Regions from separate parts of the Homo sapiens genome. Here region 1 is linked to region 2. The links come from fine-mapping of genetic effects on gene expression. A gene starts in region 2. The other region holds a variant in brackets. All regions are shown on one strand. Distances are between the middles of the regions.

Region 1 (5,000 bases), 240 kb after region 2:
CTAAGGCTCTTTTATAGTGACACAATTGCCAAATTGAAAGGATGGGTAACAAAAAGCAGGGAAGGGGGAGGGGTCAGTTTCCAAAGTAGAATGTACTAATTACTAACTTAGTTATTAGGACTCTATTATTTTTATGAATCTGTACTTCCTGTATCAAGTGACTAAAGTATATTTTAATAACTTTTTTTAAAAAGTTGATACAAAAGATGAGTATCTAGTATAGACAACATTCCAGGCACAATTTCAAGTGAACCAGAGGCTTTGAAAACACAGAGATTACGTGAACAGTGTTTTGTTCATTCCTGTGGAGCTAGTATTAAAGTTCCAAATTTAAGAGATATTCTATGAGTTTGGGGAATGTCATGTAAAAAACACTGTTACCGGCCGGGCACCGTGGCTCACGCCTGTAATCCTAGCACTTTGGGAGGCCGAGGCGGGCAGATCACAAGGTCAGGAGATCGAGACCATCCTGGCTAATACGGAGAAACCCCGTCTCTACTAAAAATACAAAAAATTAGCCAGGTGTGGTGGCGGGCGCCTGTAGTCCCAGCTACTCAGGAGGCTGAGGCAGGAGAATAGCTTGAACCTAGAAGGTGGAGGTTGCAGTGAGCCGAGATTGTGCCACTGCACTCCAGCCTGGGTGACAGAGCAAGACTCCATCTCAAAAAAACAAAAAAAAAACACTGTTACCATCTCTCCAGTATCATTAGACACCAGTGAGCTATCTTCCAAGCATTTTCTCTGCAACCAACACTGTAGAATAGCAGCAAGTATTCCTCTGAGACTCAATCCAAGAAAAAGATGACCATTAACCTACAAAATCCACTAATATATGGAACTGCATATAATTTTATGAAAAGTTGTATTTTAAAAAATCACTTTTATTGAACATATAATGGTAAGTGATTTCGATGAATCTTGTCCTGATGAAAATAATCAAACCATAACTTAGTCTTTTTATGACTTCATATTTTCTTATATCAAATGACTAATAAATATGAGGCTTATGTGTATTTTAATTTTTATCTCATTTAGAGGCAGCGTTCATGTTCTGTCATCCAGGCTGCAGTACAGTGGCATGATGATAGCTCACTGCAACCACAAAATCCTGGGCTCAAGTGATCCTCCTGCCTCAGCTTCCTCAGTGCTAGGACTATAGGAACATGCCACAATGCTCAGCTAATCATTAATTTTTTTTTTTATTTTGTAGAGACAGAGTCTTACACTATGTTGCCTAGGTTGGTCTTGAACTCCTGGCCTCCAGCGATTCTCCCTCCATGGCCTCCTAAAGTGCTGGGATCACAGGTGTGAACCACTATGCCCAGCTTTGCATGTATTTTAAATACATTTGTAAAAACAGAGAGAGAGGAAAGATGGGTGCCAGTTACAGAGAACATCTCAAGCAAAATTCAAGAGACACACAAAATTATGTGAAACTACATATTCAATTTTCATCAAGTGACTCTACTTCTATAAAATAAAGAAAAAGCAAAGACTAATGAAATAAAATGGTAATTAATTGGGTGATGGCATCACCAGCTAAAGAGTAGTACATACCACTGATACTGGAAATGACAAGGGGCTCAAAGAATGCTATAGAATAACAAGAATCTGGCTAGGTTTTAAACTCAAGCTCTGTAGTTTTATTGTTAACATATCCAGACTCTGAGTAAAAGGTCGTGGCTGGCACTGACAAAGGCAAGAGTCATCTTTTAGAATCAATGACTCCTTTCTGCTAAAGACAATGGCTGTACAAACACAGAAATATGACAGGAATAATAAACTTTCCAAAGCTTCAGCCGTAAGACCAAGGTAAGCAGAAAAAGGAAATTACACACAGAAGATAAAACTTAACACAGATATTATACAAATTGACCAAAATCTGAAAAAAATACCTATTGACAAGAAAATACACCACAGTTGCAATACAGTGATGAGAAGTAACATTTTTCCTGTTATTTCTGAATTATCATTCCCATATTATTTTCATCATTCCCATTTCTAGTATATGCATGCGAATTCAACAATTTCAGAGAAGTTAGTTCCTTGACTCATAAACCAAAATGGCAGATGTAAGAGAAAGTTCAGCAATAATTAATGATAGAAACACTTTTGAGCCTTATTTGACTTTCTAATA[A/G]ATTTTTTCCATTTCTATTCAACAGGATTAAAAGGGGTGATCAATAACAGAAAGACGTAAATTATTTTTTTCCTTGTTAACCTTTTATATAGATAATCTCTTAGTACCTGGTTTTCTGAATGGAATCAATTAAGTCAAATGTAATATATTCTGATTCTATGAGCTCCATTTTTAAAAGCATGCTGTTTTAACTTAGTATTTTCCAGTAAGGAACATTAAATTCTAGACCTCGTATCTAAAAACAACAGTTTGTGAACTTAACAAAAGCAATCCGCCTCTTTCTTTTGTGAAAACATTTAACAAGAAAAGTAACTAAGAGCAATCATAAATTACTATATATACAGGCAGTTCCCTAAAAGGCTGATACCTTAAAGAAGGAATAGAAAGGTAAAATTCAAGTTTTTAAGGTTTCAGAGTATAAGACTCTTAGAGGAACAGGTAAACTTCTTGCCCAAGTCCAACATCTGCCATTACTCCCTTTTCTAGGAAGAACACAGATTTAGACTACCTTCTTATGCTCTACTCCCATCTTAGTATTTGAATAACAGTATTTTCTTTCTAGTGTCAATCAAAAACTATCCCACAGCCTCTCTCCTACTTCTTCCCTTTCATCAAGCCACCAGAGTCCTATGGGCATCTCTAGGTTTTGATCCACTAGCAAAAACTGGAAACTGGAATTTTTTTTTTTTTTTTTTTTGGTGGGAGGAGATGCTTTTCTATGCCCTAAGCACCTATTGTGTTTCCCTCCACCCTCCCCCCAGCCCCCCACCACATATGAGCCCTGTAAACAAATTATTGTTAACACTGCAGAGTTTGAGTAAGTAAACCATCATTAAAGAATTGGTGAGACTTAGGCAAGACCTGCCTGAAAGTAAAAGGGAAGAATTAGGAACAAACCTGCTGACATGAACACCAGTTCCTTCTCTGCCCATTTGCCACTACCAGACCTATCACTAAAGACTCCGCCACCCTGAACCAAGACTAGGGTAAAGTGAGAAATAAGACAGGAAATGGGAAAATATTTTCAGTTAGTAGTGGTGAGTCTGATGACCCAAGAAAGAATGAAAGGATGAAACAGGGAGACAGCATACAAGAATGAGAGAAATGGTTAGGATGTCCCTGCAGCAAAAGCAGTAAGAAAAGCAATTCAATCTGGCCATACTGCTAGGGTATCATAAATGAGAGCCCATCCCTGTGGGAAAGAGACACACATACAGTTGGGAGCAAGGGCACAGGGAAAATCACATACACATTTCTCTCTTTTTCTCCCCCCACCCGCTGGTGCACATGTGCACTCTGCCTTTAGTAGCACTGAAATCAAATTTTTATTCTAGAAAGTAAAATGTACTCCAAAAATATCAAATCTCAGCACTGTCATAAATAAGGGAAACATAACATATTTTGCAGGATTGCCATCTGCTGTAGGGGGATCCAATAAATGATTTGATGAAAGAATTCTGACTAGAGATAGCTATATCAGATAATCAAAGCTATGAATGTGTCTATTTTTAATAGTGTCTTTATTCAATTCTATTTGTAGAGTAAGGATATTCCTTTAGATAAGACTCAAAGGCTGCAATCAATTGTAAACTAATATACACCTAAAAAACCAACACCAAGATTTTTTATTGTATTTTTCACATTTTAGACACTCATGAAATAAATCTATGAATGTATTTTCCCAGACATTCATTGTGAAATAGGATCAGTTAGAATATAATAACAAGTGCTTTGTTATGCTACACATTAGTAAAAAAGGGAAAAGCTAGGAAAATATTAAAATTGCAAGGGAATTTAATAGAAGTTAAAACATGCTACCTCATCTAAAGTATATAACATTAGTTATAGACTTTTTTACTTATAAAAAATTTAGGTTCTGTGCAGTGAATTGTCAAATAAAACAGTCTAAAAAACACATATGTAAGAAAGTAAGTCCGGTGGAAAGATTAGAAGGAATCACCCTTTCCGGTCATCTTTAATAATCCAATCAGAATTTTTGTTTGGCACTGTTGAAACCAAAGATTTACAAGTACAGATGTTCCATTAAAGTTTTTAGTGCCACAGTACAGTACAATAAGGTAATGAACACATGGCAAATTTCATTCAAAAAAATGACTAATTTTGAAAATGACTTTCATACATAGATTTTGCTATATTATTGTTACTAGCTATATCACCCTGATACAAATGCCCTGTAAAGATACAAAAGGAAAACCCAATGACTGATTTAATCAAAGAAGTAAGAGTACAGGGCCAAAAGGAAATGCCAAGTCTATCTCTTTAAGAAAAACAGAAACTGCCTGATGGCCAGGAATTGAAAGTAATACGTTCCCAGGGGTCGACTTGGGAATTGTTTAATGGGAACTATATAGTGATATGGTGGTCACTGTATTTTGAGGACTTGTTCTGACTGTCTGAACAGACATTCCAAGACTGACAAAGGCTCTTGAGCTACCTTTAAAACTCCCCTAAATTAGCTGTCAAGTTTCTAGAAAGAAGGAAGGGCCCTCCCAACGTACCTGAGAACCAAGTATTCTCCCAATCTAATATACCAAAGCCCTGTATCTGAAGACCAATGCCAGTGTTTTCTTCCATAGAAGCACTACAAACGTAGTTTTAAGAAAGGAAAAACAAAAAACAAAACGTTGATGCTATTTTTAACACAATCAAATCATCTCTGACCTGCATTACTGTAATAGTCTCCTAAATGTTTTCCCTTCTTCTTGCCCCTCCTACTAGAGCAACCTTTTAAAAACAAGCCAAATCATGTCCATCCTGTGCTCAAAACCTACCAATGGCTTCCCAACTCATTCAGAATTACTAATAAACCCAATGGTCTACAATGTTTTACAGGTTCTGCCTC
Region 2 (5,238 bases):
GCCAAGGACACCAGGCATTGTGGAACAGGGTATAGGGCCGACTCAACACACTCACCACCGCCCTGCCCCAGGCAACCTGTATGGGCCGAAAGAGATGACTTAAACTAGGAGTAAAGTACCAAACTGTACATTCTTTTTACAGCCAGCCCTCTGTATTCATGGATCATAATATTCAGATAAAAAAATGAATGATAGCATTTGTACTGAAGTTGTACAGCCTTTTTTTCTTGTCATTATTCCCTAAGCAATACAGCGTAGCAACTACTTACATAGCATTTACATTGCATTAGGTATTATAAGTAATCTAGTGATGATTTAAAGTATATGGGAAGATGTGTGTAGGTTATGTGCAAATACCATACCATTTTATATCAAGGACTTGAGCATCCATGGGTTTTGGTGTTCACAGGGCTGGGGGTGGCAGTGTCTGGGATCAATCTGCCATGAATAGCAAGGGACAGCTGTACTCCGTGTGTGCTTGGCTGGCTAACACAGGAATATAATTTAGCAAAGAACTCTCTTCTCCACCAGAGAAGACTCACACCCATGAAGAATGAAGATTGAAGATTTGAAGATTTTTCTTGTAGTATAGTAACTTTGTGTTAACCTATTTCCCATCTCCCATTACACTGTGATTTCCTTGGGGTAGCCTGTTATCAGCCAATGCCATGTGGGGCAGAAGAACTGCCCATCTGAGCCCTGCCTGAATTCCTGAACCATAAAATCATATTAAAAATGATTTGTAATTGAATAATTGATTGAATGAGGGAATGGACATTAAACTGAGGATTACCTGGAAAATCTGATTTATTATCTGATTTCTACCAATGGGACCCAGGGTCAATGGCTGGAGGAAGCTTTTAACATCCTACCAATTCAAAGGGACTCCTGTCTTGGTGAGAGCCTCCAAATGGGTTGATTGAGAATTCAGTGCAACTTAGCAAGTATAAGAATCCACGTACAGTGGAGGGGTCCCTGCTCTAAAACTCCCACCACATTGGGCCCGCAGTCCCCCAGACCAATATTTGTGATTGCAAAACCACTGCTCCTATTATTAGCATGACTGGCTCTGTCACCACAGTCAGGTCCTCCCTGACTTGGGCCCTCTCTGGGTTAACTTCTCCCTCCTTAGGTCCCAGCATCCTGTGTCCTCACCCTGGAGAGCATATGCTACAATACCTTAAAATTTCTCACCACCTTCTTGGCCTCTACTGCTGGTCTGAGTGGTGGCCATCTTCAGATCTCCTTTGGCACCCAGTACCCCACATGTTTTAGGGATGAGGGAGAAGAAGCAGGGGGTGCCAGAGCTCAGCTTCAGCTCTTCCTGGCAGGGAACTGGAGCTCGAGACTGAAATGTATTTTGTTACTTTATTTATTCAGAGATGGAGTCTCGCTCTCTCACCCAGGCTGGAGTGCAATGGCGCAATCTTGGCTCACTGCAACCTCTGCCTCTGAGGCTCAAGCGATTCTCCTCCCTCACCCTCCTGAGTAGGTGGGATTACAGGGGCCTGCCACCATGCCCAGCTACAATTTTTTTTTTTGTTTTATTTTCTAGGGGAGATGGGGTTTCACCACGTTGGCCAGGCTGGTTTCAAACTCGTGACCTCAAGTAATCCGCCTGCCTTAGCCGCCCAAAGTGCTGGGATTGCAGGCATGAGCAGCCGAGTCTGGCCTATTTTGTTACTTTAACTTATTATGAAAGTTTCCTAATGCACATGAAAGTAGGTGAGAATCAAAATTAAACTTTCATGTATCTTCGTCTAGTTTCACTAATTATCAACATTCTGACATTCTCACTTTGTCTACCATGTACTTTTGGCTAGAATATTTAAAAAATAAATGACCAGTATCATATGACTTACCCGTAAACACTTCAAAATATGAGCTTGAGATGTAGAATCACTGATTTTGGGGTTAAATGAACCTCAAAAGTCCTCCTGTGTTCAAATGGGCCTGGGCTTGGAAGCTCTGCAGTGGGTGCCCGGCTCTTGGAGACCCCGGCCACAGCGGGAGGGGGATACAACGTGGATGCTGGAATCAGCTCTCTGCCTGGATCCTGGGAAAACGCCCCCTGGAGTGATTGGCTTAGTTCTTCTTGGGCCCATCACAGTTCATCCAAGTAATCCACTTGCTTCCTGTTCTCCAACTCCTCTGTCACGTGCAGCCATTTCATCTTCACACCACACCCTTGTGATTTAGGGAGTATCATCTCCATCACGCCTGTAATCCCAGCACTTTGGAAGGCCAAGGAGGGCAGATCACGAGGTCAGGAGTTTGAGACCAGCCTGACCAACATGGTGAAACCTCGTCCCTACTAAAAATACAAAAATTAGCTGGGAGTGGTGGCGGGCGCCTGTAATCCCAGCTACTCAGGAGGCTGAGGCAGGAGAATTGCTTGAACCCAGGAGGCGGAGGTTGCAATGAGCCGAGATCACGCCACTGCACTCCAGCCTGGGTGACAGAGCGAGACTCTGTCTCAAAAAAAAAAAAAAAAATTTCCCCCACCCCTTATTATTTGCATATTACAAGCAAACCAGTTTATGCTCGGAGAGGCTAAGTGACTTGCCCAGGGTTACCCAGGTAGTGGAGGGAGAAGCAGAATTCCCACCCAGCTCTGCTGAACTCCGATGCCCTAGCTTGCCTGGTGGCACCCACAACCGGCCCTCAGTGTCCACTTCTGAGTTTAGCCTGGGCAAGAGACTGGTCCATAAACGACTTCCTGCCCAGTGGTAAACAGTGGAAGGCAGGCTCCTGTGTTTCTCGTGGTTGGTGGTAATCGCTGCTTTTGCAAAGTGGCTTTTGGGGAGGAGAGGTTTTAGGAAGTGTGTTAAATGAGGGGGGAAGTGTTACTTGGGGGTTTCCCAGCACTCAACACGCACACTGCAGGGGCTGCCCTCCCCCGCAGCACACTGGGAGAGCCTGTCCTCCAGCGCTGCCCACGCCCGGCCGTGGGTCTCATTCCCCACTGGATCTCCTGTCTTTGATGTCAAATATACCCAATTCATCTCTTTCATATCACTACAAAGGAGCCTCCTAATTACTCTGTTTAGACAGCCTCTTCTCCAAATATTAAACATTTGGTCTTCCCAGGCCCCCCAAGCATTTAATATCATCAAGGTTGTTGCGAAATCCACTTTTCCCCCAACTGGTGGGCAGATTCCTTTCTCTCTCCATTCCCAGCCTCCCTGGGCAGATCTGGACAAGTCACCCCACATATTCTTTTCCCAAGCAGGCTGCCCTTGGGACACAGCCCTTTTCTTCTGGTGAGAGGGTCGGAGCAGTGGGGTGGACCTTGAGCGTTTTCTTGAATCTCAGCCCTGTTGGGAAGCCCTGGAGAAGCCTTGGGGAGACCCAAGGACTCAGGGGTGACCTGTCATGCCTGACGCAGGTATGTGGGGCATCTCCACCTTTGGTGGTGGCAGGCCCAGCACCAAGTCCAGAACGTTTGCTGGCTGGTGGGGAAACAGAGACTTCCTGGTTCCAGATCAGAAACTGCCTTGAGTAGCTGCATCTCTCCAGACACCAGATGCTCGGTACCTGAGGCTCCCATAGCCTCTCCTCCTTCAAAAGAAAGAAAGAAAAAAAAAAGCACTCTAATCCTGGAACCCGTCCCCATCCCGAACCTCCACGGCCTTGCCACCGCTTCCTTAGGTAGAGAAGTCGGCTCACATTTCTTCCTACTCAACAGCTGCTAGTGTTCGCCCTTCTAATGCCTCCCTCCTGGTCCCATGGGCCTTTGCCAGCTGATGTCATGGCACAGTGCTATGTCATAGGTCTGTGCTATGCTCCCTGTTCTGCTCTCTCTTCATGGTGTGGCTGGTCCCCAGAAGGACTCTGTGGCTTGGGACTGCTCCCCAGACATCCCTCCTGTCTCCTCATGGGCCTTGTTGCTCTGGCTGAGCAGAAAACAGCCTCCCCATTCCCCCGGCCCCACACCAACGCGGGGGTCAAGGAAGGTTTCCAAAGGGACATTTGAGCAGAATCTTTTCCTTCTCTCCTTCCCTTTCTCCTTTCCCTGCCTTCCCATCTCCCTTCCTTCTTTCTTTCAACTTTTTATTACGAAAAACTTCATTTTCAAAAGTAAAGTGTATAATGAACCCCCATTTACCTATCTCACCCAGCATCAATGCTGATAGACCGGGCCAATCTTGTTTCCTCAAAACCCCCTAACCCCACTACCCACCCTCCAACAATGGATGGTATTGAAGCGGATTCCAGACAGCGATTGTATCATTCTCTCTGTAAACACTTCAGTGTGTATCTCTAACAGACAAGGACTTTTAGAGAAACATAACCACAGTATCACATCTAAAAATATAAACAGTAGTCCAGTCAGTGTTCGAATTGTTTCATAACTGCACTTTTTAAAGTGGCTTGTTTGGATCAGGATGCTGAGCAGACAGACTTGAAGGGATTGAAGGGTGACACATTTTGGTGTGGGTGTGGGCTGGTGGTGGTGATGGGGAAGCACATTCTCACAATTCTTGGACACTTGATTGGCCTACTGCAGACAGCAGGGATTCCCTTTTTTTTTTTTTTTTTAGACGGAGTCTTGCTCTGTTGCCCAGGCTGGAGTGCAGCGGCATGATCTCAGCTCACTGCAACCTCCGCCTCCTGGGTTCAAGCGATTCTCCTGCCTCAGCCTCCTGAGTAGCTGGGATTACAGGCAGGCACCACCATGCCTGGCTAATTTTTGTATTTTTAGTAGAGACAGGGTTTCATCATGTTGATCAGGCTGGTCTCGAACTCCTGACCTTGTGATCCGCCTGCCTTGGGCTCCCGAAGTGCTGGGATTACAGGCGTGAGCCACTGGCCAGGACTCCCAATTTTTATTAACCTCTACTGAACTCATTTTCACAAATCATTGCTCAGTTGTTTCCCTGGCCAATTGAGACTCAGGGGTATGTCACTTCCTCCAGGCAGCCTTCCCTGCATCCTGGCCCCCAGTCAGCCCGGGCAGGTGTTCTTGTTCTATAACTGAGTTCACTGTCTTTCCCAGGTGACACTGTTTGTAGCTCCCTATAATAAGTCTTCCTCAGGGGCAGCATGTGCGAGACACAGTCGGGTCTATTAGACATGTGCTACTGAATAAAGAGGAGGTCAGCCCTCATCCATTTCTGATTTGCTGCCCTGTGGGTTTGCTTTCTTTAGGTGGGTTAGGAAGTGCCTCCTATGTGCCATGCATCTCTGAATTCTTCAGTTAATTCTCACAACCGTCATGTAAGCTGATACGATCAT

Alleles and levels. Positions count from the first base shown, and alleles are read on the strand shown. Sizes are in standard deviations (SD) of each study's normalised expression.
In carriers of allele G in region 1, the expression in spleen of the gene that starts at base 2,422 in region 2 tends to be lower than with A alone (moderate effect, 0.63 SD a copy in GTEx).

What was found. PIP is the estimated chance that this variant, and not a neighbour inherited with it, causes the effect. A credible set is the group of variants that fine-mapping cannot tell apart.
Region 1: its variant is the best candidate, but not a certain one, in a credible set for the expression of LINC00926 in spleen (GTEx, PIP 0.79).

What each region holds. Positions count from the first base shown.
Region 1 is chr15:57,057,638-57,062,637 of GRCh38, reverse strand. All of the region lies in intron 3 of TCF12 (transcription factor 12), which reads right to left. Among named protein-coding and RNA genes, the nearest start is that of TCF12, 140 kb to the right of the region's middle. The variant A/G (reference allele first, on the strand shown) is at 2,138.
Region 2 is chr15:57,297,549-57,302,786 of GRCh38, reverse strand. It overlaps LINC00926 (long intergenic non-protein coding RNA 926), which reads right to left and starts at 2,422. Exons shown (of 3, transcript NR_024433.1): 1 at 1,863-2,422. RefSeq lists enhancers at 3,761-3,880, 4,363-4,412.